Regions from separate parts of the Homo sapiens genome. Here region 2 is linked to region 1. Evidence: fine-mapped expression QTL. A gene starts in region 1. The other region holds a variant in brackets. All regions are shown on one strand. Distances are from middle to middle.

The links. PIP is the estimated chance that this variant, and not a neighbour inherited with it, causes the effect.
Region 2: its variant is fine-mapped to the expression of GRIN2D in whole blood (TOPMed, PIP 0.94).

What each region holds. Positions count from the first base shown.
Region 1 is chr19:48,391,218-48,395,728 of GRCh38, reverse strand. It overlaps GRIN2D (glutamate ionotropic receptor NMDA type subunit 2D), which reads right to left and starts at 2,061. Exons shown (of 14, transcript NM_000836.4): 1 at 1,861-2,061; 2 at 793-1,071. KDELR1 (KDEL endoplasmic reticulum protein retention receptor 1) reads left to right here and starts at 4,178. Exons shown (of 5, transcript NM_006801.3): 1 at 4,178-4,461. The coding sequence starts at 4,371. RefSeq lists a silencer at 4,022-4,341.
Region 2 is chr19:48,418,313-48,422,312 of GRCh38, reverse strand. It overlaps GRIN2D (glutamate ionotropic receptor NMDA type subunit 2D), which reads right to left. Exons shown (of 14, transcript NM_000836.4): 9 at 2,954-3,079; 10 at 2,499-2,728; 11 at 368-528. Among named protein-coding and RNA genes, the nearest start is that of GRWD1, 26 kb to the left of the region's middle. RefSeq lists enhancers at 2,590-2,829, 2,890-3,129, 2,880-3,646. The variant C/T (reference allele first, on the strand shown) is at 1,572.

The DNA.
Region 1 (4,511 bases):
TGGCCTCCCTAGTCACCCCACTTAGATCCTGTACATAGCACAGCCTGTCCCCAAGCGGGGAGGAGGAGGAGGGTGCCAGAAATTCCTAGGGTGTCCCTGTCTTCATTGCCCCCCACAGCATCCAACAGAGAAGAGAGGAGCGGCCACTTCGATCAACAGCTCCCCCCACAACCTCGAGTTGTGCTGCAGACGGCATCCCGTTTCCTCCCCCCTCACCTCCCAACACACACACACAACATCGGTCTCTCCCCACCCGAATCCTGATGCTTGGAAGAGGCTGGAAGGGTGTTCCAGAACCTTGAGGAAGGGGTGGGAGCTTGGGGCGAGGGGTGCTGGGGGCCTGGATGCCCTCAAGGTCCTTGGCGGGGGTATTAATAGCAGACTCATAGCTCTGACATGGGAGGGGAGAGCGAGAGGAGAGAGGGAGAGGACCGGCTCGCGATGGGGGGACTGATGCAGGGAGGGGGGTACAGGGAGAAGGTGAGATAGAGAGATGGAGGCACAGGGATATGGGGCATCAGGTATGTGGGGATGGGGAGAGGGAGCCAAGTGTCAGAGAAATGGGGGCGTGAAAGGTCTGAGGTGTAGGGACTCAGGAAAAAGGGGCTCAGAGAGGGAGAGAGAGAGGGTGGAGGAGAGTCCCTGAGGGACAGGGGAGCTAGGTGGGGGTCAAGACCCCTGCCCACCGTTCAAACCCCCTCCCTCCACGAGGCTTCTTGCCAACTTCCTCTGTCCTAGATTTGGGGGTCCACATTCCCACCACCATCCCTGCATCCCCTGTCCCCGCCTTACCTTTTCATGACCCTGTTCTGTTGGGGGGATGGCGGGGGGGCCAGGACCGGAACCCGGCGTCCAGCGACCCCAAGATTCCGAGGAGGGCTCAGAGAGCCGATGTCGGGGGGCAGGCCCCGGGGCGGCGGCAGTGGTGGTGGCGGCAGCAGCGGCAGCCCGGACCTCCTGTCTGTCCCTGGCTCCGTCTCTCCTTCCTCTTCCTTGGTCCTGTCCTGCCCTGTCTCTCCCCCAAGGTTGCGGCCACCTGGACTAGGCGAGGACGTGGCTACACATGTTGCTCTGGAAGTTGGGCCCCGGACATTGCAGAGGCTGTCGGGGTGTCCTCTTGCCGCCCCGACCCCGTGGGGATCCCCCCTCCGCCCACCCGGGGTGCCCCCCTCTGCCGCTTCAGCCCCGGCTCCTCCCCCCTTTCCATGTGTCCAGTCCCGCCTCTCCCTGGCTCACTCGCACCCCCGCTTTGTGCCCTCAGCCCCCCCACCCCCCCTTCCAGCGTCTGTGTCTATCTGTCTGTCTGGGTCACCTCTGAAGCTAGTGGCTGGTGTGTGCGTGTGAGGAGCGGGAGATTGCCTGCTTGGGGAACTGCTTGCCCCTTCCTCGCTTGGCCACCTCTAGACCCCCCCTTGACTCCCCCACTCTCAAACACAGGCAGAAACACACATACACTCACGCACACACGCACGATCTCACTTCCCTGGGATTCCCCCTCAACACCCCCAGAGCTTGAGGAGGGACACACACACAGACACACACACACAGAGTGGGGGGTCTAATGGGGGCCAGGCTGCCACTGCTGATAGGGGCTGTTTGGACAGACAGGAGGACACAGGCAGCCGGGGACGCCCAGACGCCTGGCCGGACGCAGGCAGGAGGCACAGAACCCAGGTACACACCATCCATCTGGGTTTGGGGGGGCCGGGGGGAAGGAGCGGGAGCCCCACGACACCCAGGCAGGCAGCTCAGGGTCGGTACAGACAGACAGACCCCTCCCTCCCTCCGCCGCCGCAGCGCTTACAGACACACCCCCCCTCCACCAGCCAGCCCCAGACACCCGGACACACAGATCCTCACCGGGCAGATGGCAGACGCTCGAGAGACCCCTGGGGGCCGGGCCGACCTACCCAGGCAACACCCCCAGCAGGCACCGGTGGCCGAGGGAGGCTGCGGGAGGCTGCGGGCGAGGGTGGCGGCGGCGGCCGCGGCTTGGAGGAGCTGGAGCGGGAGGGACTCACACACTCGCTGTGTTCTCGCACACACACACTCACTCGGGATGCGATTAACATTCAGTCCCCGTCTGCCACTGCCGGGAGACCCACAGCCCCCCCTCCTGGCCTCCCTGGGGACCCCTTCTCCTGCCAGGCTTGGGGAGGGGGCCGCCCCCCACCCCTAGCTACCAGCCTCTGCCTTCCTCCTGGGACAAGGGAGTGAGGGGCTGAAAATAAAAAGGGAGGAAGAAGTCAGGCTGGGGACAGGCAGGCAGGGACTCAGAACCCGGTATGGAGACACCAGCTTCAGAGCTAGACTCCAGGGCTGGGGGTTGCTGCCCTCTGCCCCCGCCCTGCCTTGAGGCTCTGGAAACAGGAGGCCTTTCCCTGACTTCAGTGTTCGCCACACTAAGACCCAAGCTGTGGCTTTTATTGCCCCAGAAGGCCAGGCCTGAAAACCAGGTCTCGACCCTGGTCCCAGGAGTCCCACCCCCCAGCCCCTCCTCCCTCAGACCCAGGAGTCCCCTTCTCTACTGGGACCCAGGAATTTGGGGACCGCCTCCAAGTCGGAGTCTCTTTTAAGGACTCAGTCATCCCGACTCTCCCCCGTACAAGCCACCCTCAGGGACCCAAGACTCGTGGATGTCACCCTTGGGCACCCCGTCCTTCCAGCCCTCTGAAGAAATCAACACGCCTGCACCCCTTCTTTTATTGAGGGACCCTGGCCTCCATCATCTGTGGGTACCCCATCATCCGGAAGGGAAGCCACGTCTGTCCCCTCATAGATGCAGGAGTCCAGACCACAGGCTGTTCCCCGGGGGTCCCACACCCAGATGCCCAGCATTCCCCTCCTGCTAGAGGGCTGGGCCCGGCACTTTTATAAAGCCACCCGTGGGGCTCTGGGGTAGAGCGTGGGGCAGGACACCGGGGCCTCTGAGGGTGGAAGAGGGTGTGTGTGTGTGGGCAGGGCAGAAACTCTGGAGCAGGGGGGAAGCCAGGGCCAGGGGCTCCTGAGGTAGTTTGGGTCAGAGTTTTGGCCTTGAGCCTCCTGGGTGAGGCTCCTGTTTCCTTCATCCTCAAGGTCTGGGAGAACAGGGTGAGGTGCACATTCCTGAAAAAGAAGAGAATCAGGGCCTAAATCTGTGGGTCGTAAAGGGAGAAACTGTAGATCTAGATTCTTAAGGTTAGGATGTTTGATCCATAAGATGGTGGGGGTGGGACCCTAAGTTCCAAGGAACAGCGTCCTAGGAGGGAAAAGGGCTGGGGCCCTGAACTCCTGGGTCTGAGGGAGGAGGGGCTGGGGCCCTGGACCCCTGGGTCTGAGGGAGGAGGGGCTGGGGCCCTGGACCCCTGGGTCTGAGGGAGGAGGGGCTGGGGCCCTGGACCCCTGGGTCTGAGGGAGGAGGGGCTGGGGATCTGGACTCCTGGGTCTGAGGGAGGAGGTGCTGGGGGTCTGGACTCCTGGGTCTGAGGGAGGAAGGGCTGGGGGCCTGGACTCCTGGATCTGGGGGAGGAGGGTCTGGGGGCCTGGAGTCCTGGGTCTGAGGGAGGAGGCTGGGGGCCTGGACTCCTGGGTCTGAGGGAGGAGGCTGGGGGCCTGGACTCCTGGGTCTGAGCGAGGAGGAGCTGGGCCTGGACTCCTGGATCTGAGGGAGGAGGGGCTGGGGGTCTGGACTTCTGGGTCTGAGGGAGGAGAGGCTGGGGGTCTGGACTCCTGGGTCTGAGGGAGGAGGGGCTGGGGACCCAGACTTCTGGGTTTGACGAACGGGCTGGGGCCTTGAGTCCTGGGTCTAGGGGAGGAAGTAGGTGGGGTATCTTTCTTGTCTTCTGGGGGATTGGAGTTAGAGTGCCTGAAAGCTGCAAAAGCTAGCAGCTGAGCCTCCGGGTCCCTGCAGGATTTTTCAAGCTCAGAGGGCAGTCTCTACATCCCTGCAAGGGCTGAGGCTGGTGTACTGGACTGCGTCTCTTCCAGAGACACAGACTGCCTGGGCGAACCGGTGCTGGATTTGGCACTTTCCGAACCCTGCGACCCTCCCAAGTTCCTATGGGGCAGCTTTGGGGGTGCGTTTAGCGCCGCCACGGCAAAGCAGGAGGTGGGCGATAGGGGGCGCCGGGGATCCAGGCCCCGCCCTCGGGGGCGGAGCCTCTCCTCCCGGACTCCTCCCCCTCTCGCTCTCCTCCCTCTTCCCGGCTCCAGCTCCGCCGCCAGCTCCAGCCTTTGCTCCCCCTCCCAAAGTCCCCTCCCCGGAGCGGAGCGCACCTAGGGTCCCTCTTCCGTCCCCCCAGCCCAGCTACCCGTTCAGACCAGCAGCCTCGGGGGGCACCCCCCCGCCAGCCTGCCTCCCTCCCGCTCAGCCCTGCCAGGGTTCCCCAGCCATGAATCTCTTCCGATTCCTGGGAGACCTCTCCCACCTCCTCGCCATCATCTTGCTACTGCTCAAAATCTGGAAGTCCCGCTCGTGCGCCGGTGAGAGGCCCACCAGGGCTGGCGAAGGAGAGAGATTGCGGGCGGGGGTT
Region 2 (4,000 bases), 27 kb before region 1:
AACAACCTTATGATCATTACAGTGGGGATACTCTTGTTATCCTCATTTTACAGAGGAGGAAACAGAGGTTCAGAGAGGCTGAGTAACTTGCCCAAGGTCACAAAGCCAAGAAGGGGAAGAGCAAAGATTTGAGCCCCATCAGTCTCACCCCAGAATCCAGAAATACTGCATCCCAGAAAATATCCCAAGGAGCCTGCTCCTGGGAGGAGGAGTCCACTTCCACCCTCAGTGACCTCCGCCCTCCAAGCTGACCCACCCAGGGCTGACCTCTGGGACTGAATGAATGAACCTGGACCCCTTGCCATCTTTGAGCATCCTCAGGTCCCCAGCGGCCCAACCCCCACCCCCGGCCCGAGTCTGCGCTGACCCTGCCTTGAGCTGAGTGAGCGCTTCCTCTACGCGGGGCTGGTTGTAGCGCACCATGTAGCTGTGCATGTCGGGATAGTTGCTGCGGATGTTCTTCTCCGTGGAGCCGTTGGGCACGGTCCCAAACTTCAGGGGCGGGTACTGCTCCTGGGGCCTCTGGAACTGGGGCAGAATGGGGAGTGATTAGGGCACCCTCCGCAGGGACATCCCTAACATAAATCACCCATTCTGAGACACACCCGCTATCTGGCAGACACCCCAGTCCCAGGAGTGTTCAATATTTCTCAACACTCGCTCACTACATTAGGGAATGCTTTTCCACTCCCACCCAGCACACACGGTTGCAGACACGTGATCCAAAAGTTCACGAGAAGCCTCCCTGAGGCCCCTGATGTGCCAGGTGTTAAGTCTTCACTTACTGAATCGCGGGAGGTCCTGGGAGTAGAGGCTGGCATGGCAGGAGCTGGGAGCTGTTGCTATTTACCAATCCGTTCAGAAATAGTTCACTTTTTTTTTTTTAAACGGAGTCTTGCTCTTGTTGCCCAGGCTGGAGTGCAATGGCACACTGTCAGCTCACTGCAACCTCCGCCTCCCAGGTTCAACTGATTCTCCTGCCTCAGCCTCCCGAGTAGCTGGGATTACAGGCACATACCACCATGCCCAGCCAGTTTTGTATTTTTAGTAGAGATGGGGTTTCTCCATGTTGGTCAGGCTGGTCTCGAACTACCAACCTCAGGTGATCCGCCCGCCTTGGCCTCCCAAAGTGCTGGGATTACAGGCATAAGCCACCGCGCCCAGACAACTAAAACAAGTTTTGTAAAACCAAACTTATACATAAGATGCAGGCAACTATTCTATTCTACTCCATTCCATTAAAAAATGCTTATTGCAACCCATCAAACTGATTTCTCAAGCCTCTAATAGGTCATGACACCCAGCTAGTTAATCACTTTAGTCTCAAAGTATGCTCTGCAAACCACCAGTCCCTCAACAAACGGTGATTGCAGTGAGATGTGTACAGGAATGGAGAGAGTGAGCATTTAGAGTGATTTGACAGAATTCTTTTTCGTCTGTTGAATCTAATAAATAAAAATGTGAGTTTGGCTTTTTTTTAGGCAGAGTCTCGCTCTGTCACCCAGGCTAGGAATCAGTTCTATTTGTGGCGTAATCATGGCTCACTGTAACCTCCGCCTCCCGGGTTCAAG[C/T]GATTCTCCTGCCTCAGCCTCCCAAGTAGCTGGGACTACAGGCACCCACTACCACGCCTGGCTAATTTTTGTATTTTTATTAGAGACGAGGTTTCACTATGTTGGCCAGGCTGGTCTCGAACTCCTGACCTCAGGTGATCCACCCACCTCGGCCTCCCAAAGTGCTGGGATTACAGGCGTGAGCCACCGTTCCTGGCCAGGTTTGACTTTTGTCTGTCTTGGTTTTAGATCTTATTTTACTTTTCTAATAATTCATTTCCGTTGAATTTTACAAAAGCATTGTCTGCAATGGACTAGCAGTTTTTTGTTTTTTTGAGACAGAGTCTAACTCTGTCGCGCTGGCTGGAGTGCAGTGGGGCGATCTCGGCTCACTGCAAGCTCTGCCTCCTGGGTTCACGCCATTCTCCTGCCTCAGCCTCCCGGGTAGCTGGGACTACAGGTGCCTGTCACCACGCCCGGCTAATTTTATGTACTTTTAGAAGAGACGGGGTTTCACCGTGTTAGCCAGGATGGTCTCGATCTCCTGACCTCGTGATCCGCCCGCCTCGGCCTCCCAACGTGCTGGGATTACAGGTGTGAGCCACCGCGCCCAGCCTTAGAAGTTTCAAAAATTAATCCTTCCTCACAGTTTGAGAGAAGCACTGGTTCTAGAATATCCTATTTGACACAACTGCCCCTAGAACATTCAGGGACACCCTCTTCCCTAGGAATATTTTAAATAGCTCATCGTGAACCGTGTTCTTTCTTCATCCACAACATTCCATTCTACCATTCTGGAATTCTCCTTGGGAAGAGACCCCTTCCCGCCCTCCCCCCACCCCTCTCACCCCCGCCCCCCGCAAGAATCCCCTCTAATCTACCACATGACAAGCTCTGTGACCTCCAGCCCCAGCCCCAGCTCCAGCCCAGCCCTGGGCCCACACACACCTTGCGGTCACTGAGCCCAGACACAGTATCCACGTACTCCTCCTGGATCATGAAGGCGGCCAGGTTGGCTGTGTAGCTGGCGAGGAAGATGACGGCGAAGAAGGCCCACACCAGCACCATGATTTTGCTGGTGGTTCCCCGGGGGTTCTCCACGGGCACCGAATTATTGAACACCAGGGCCCAGAGCAGCCAGATGGATTTCCCAATGGTGAAGGTTGAACCGCCAGGGCCTGCAGGGGGCCAGGACGTGGACATGGACCCCAAATCCCTTCTCAATAAGGAAGGGAAAAAAAAAAAAAGAAAGAACTACAATTCCCAGTGGCCCTCAAGGCATCTGGCACCTCCCGAGAGGCCCTAGCTTGACCGCCCCCCCTCCAGGGGCTGCTGGGAAATGTAGTTCTCTGTCTCTGTGGTTCGGGATCTCCGAGGCGGGGGATGGAGGAAGGGGGACTCACGCTTGCCCGTGGCCAGGCTGCGGTTGTAACCAACAGGACTGAGGTACTCGAAGATGAAAACAGTGACGGCGACCACAGTGAGGCACATGACGAACATCATCACCCACACGGCGGGGCTGTAGGGCTCTGGGGACAAGGGAGTGCGTGGTTATGGCTCAGCCAAGCAAAAGACTCGGGGATCAGGCTGGGGCGGTGCCTCACGCCTGTACTCCCAGAACTTTGGGAGGCTGAGGCAGGAGGATCACTTGACGCCTGGAGTTCAAGACCAGACTGGCCTTGAACTCCCTGTCTCTACAAAAAAAAAAAAGGAAGAAAAAAGAAAGAAAAAAAACCCTAGGGTACTACCAGCAGGGAACAAGGTGCAGCCCAGATCTGACCCCATCCTATTCTGGCCCTATCTCTGCTTCTCCATCTCCAAGATAGTCTTATGGCACACCCATACCCCTAGGAGGCAGCCATTCTCAAAGAGAGCCGTCGCAGGCATTTCTGTGGTTTCAGCCACCAAATAGAAACTGTCTCCTAAATGTTTCCTGAGTCACAGGCCCAAGCCTCCACCTACCCCAGCCATCTCCTCAGGCCATTCATCATGTCCCATGCTGAGCCCAGACCAGCTCCCACGCTCCTCATGATGGGAGCCCCACCATCCACCCAGTCACAGGCCCAAACCTCATTTGCCGTCCTCCCTTCCTCCCTCCTTCTCCCTCGCTGGCCACAGCCTGTCAGTATCCAGCCCCACGCTCCTGCCCCTGATGCTACTTGGGCCTCTCCTCTCCATTCTCATGGCCAACAGGGCTCAGGCCTCATCTCCTCCCACCAACCATTTCCCCAGCCTCCTGAGCTCCTGTCTGTCCCCTACAGCCTATCCCCCACACAGCACAGAGAGGACCTGGCCCCTCCCCTGCTTACAGCCCTCCCCAGGCTCCCTAGCACCCCCAGGACAAAGTCCCTGCCACTCAGCCTTGTCACACTCTCCTTTCTGTCCTGATCACTCTCTCAAGCACCCATGCTTTACTCAAAACTCACAGGTGGCTGGGTGTGGTGGTTCAC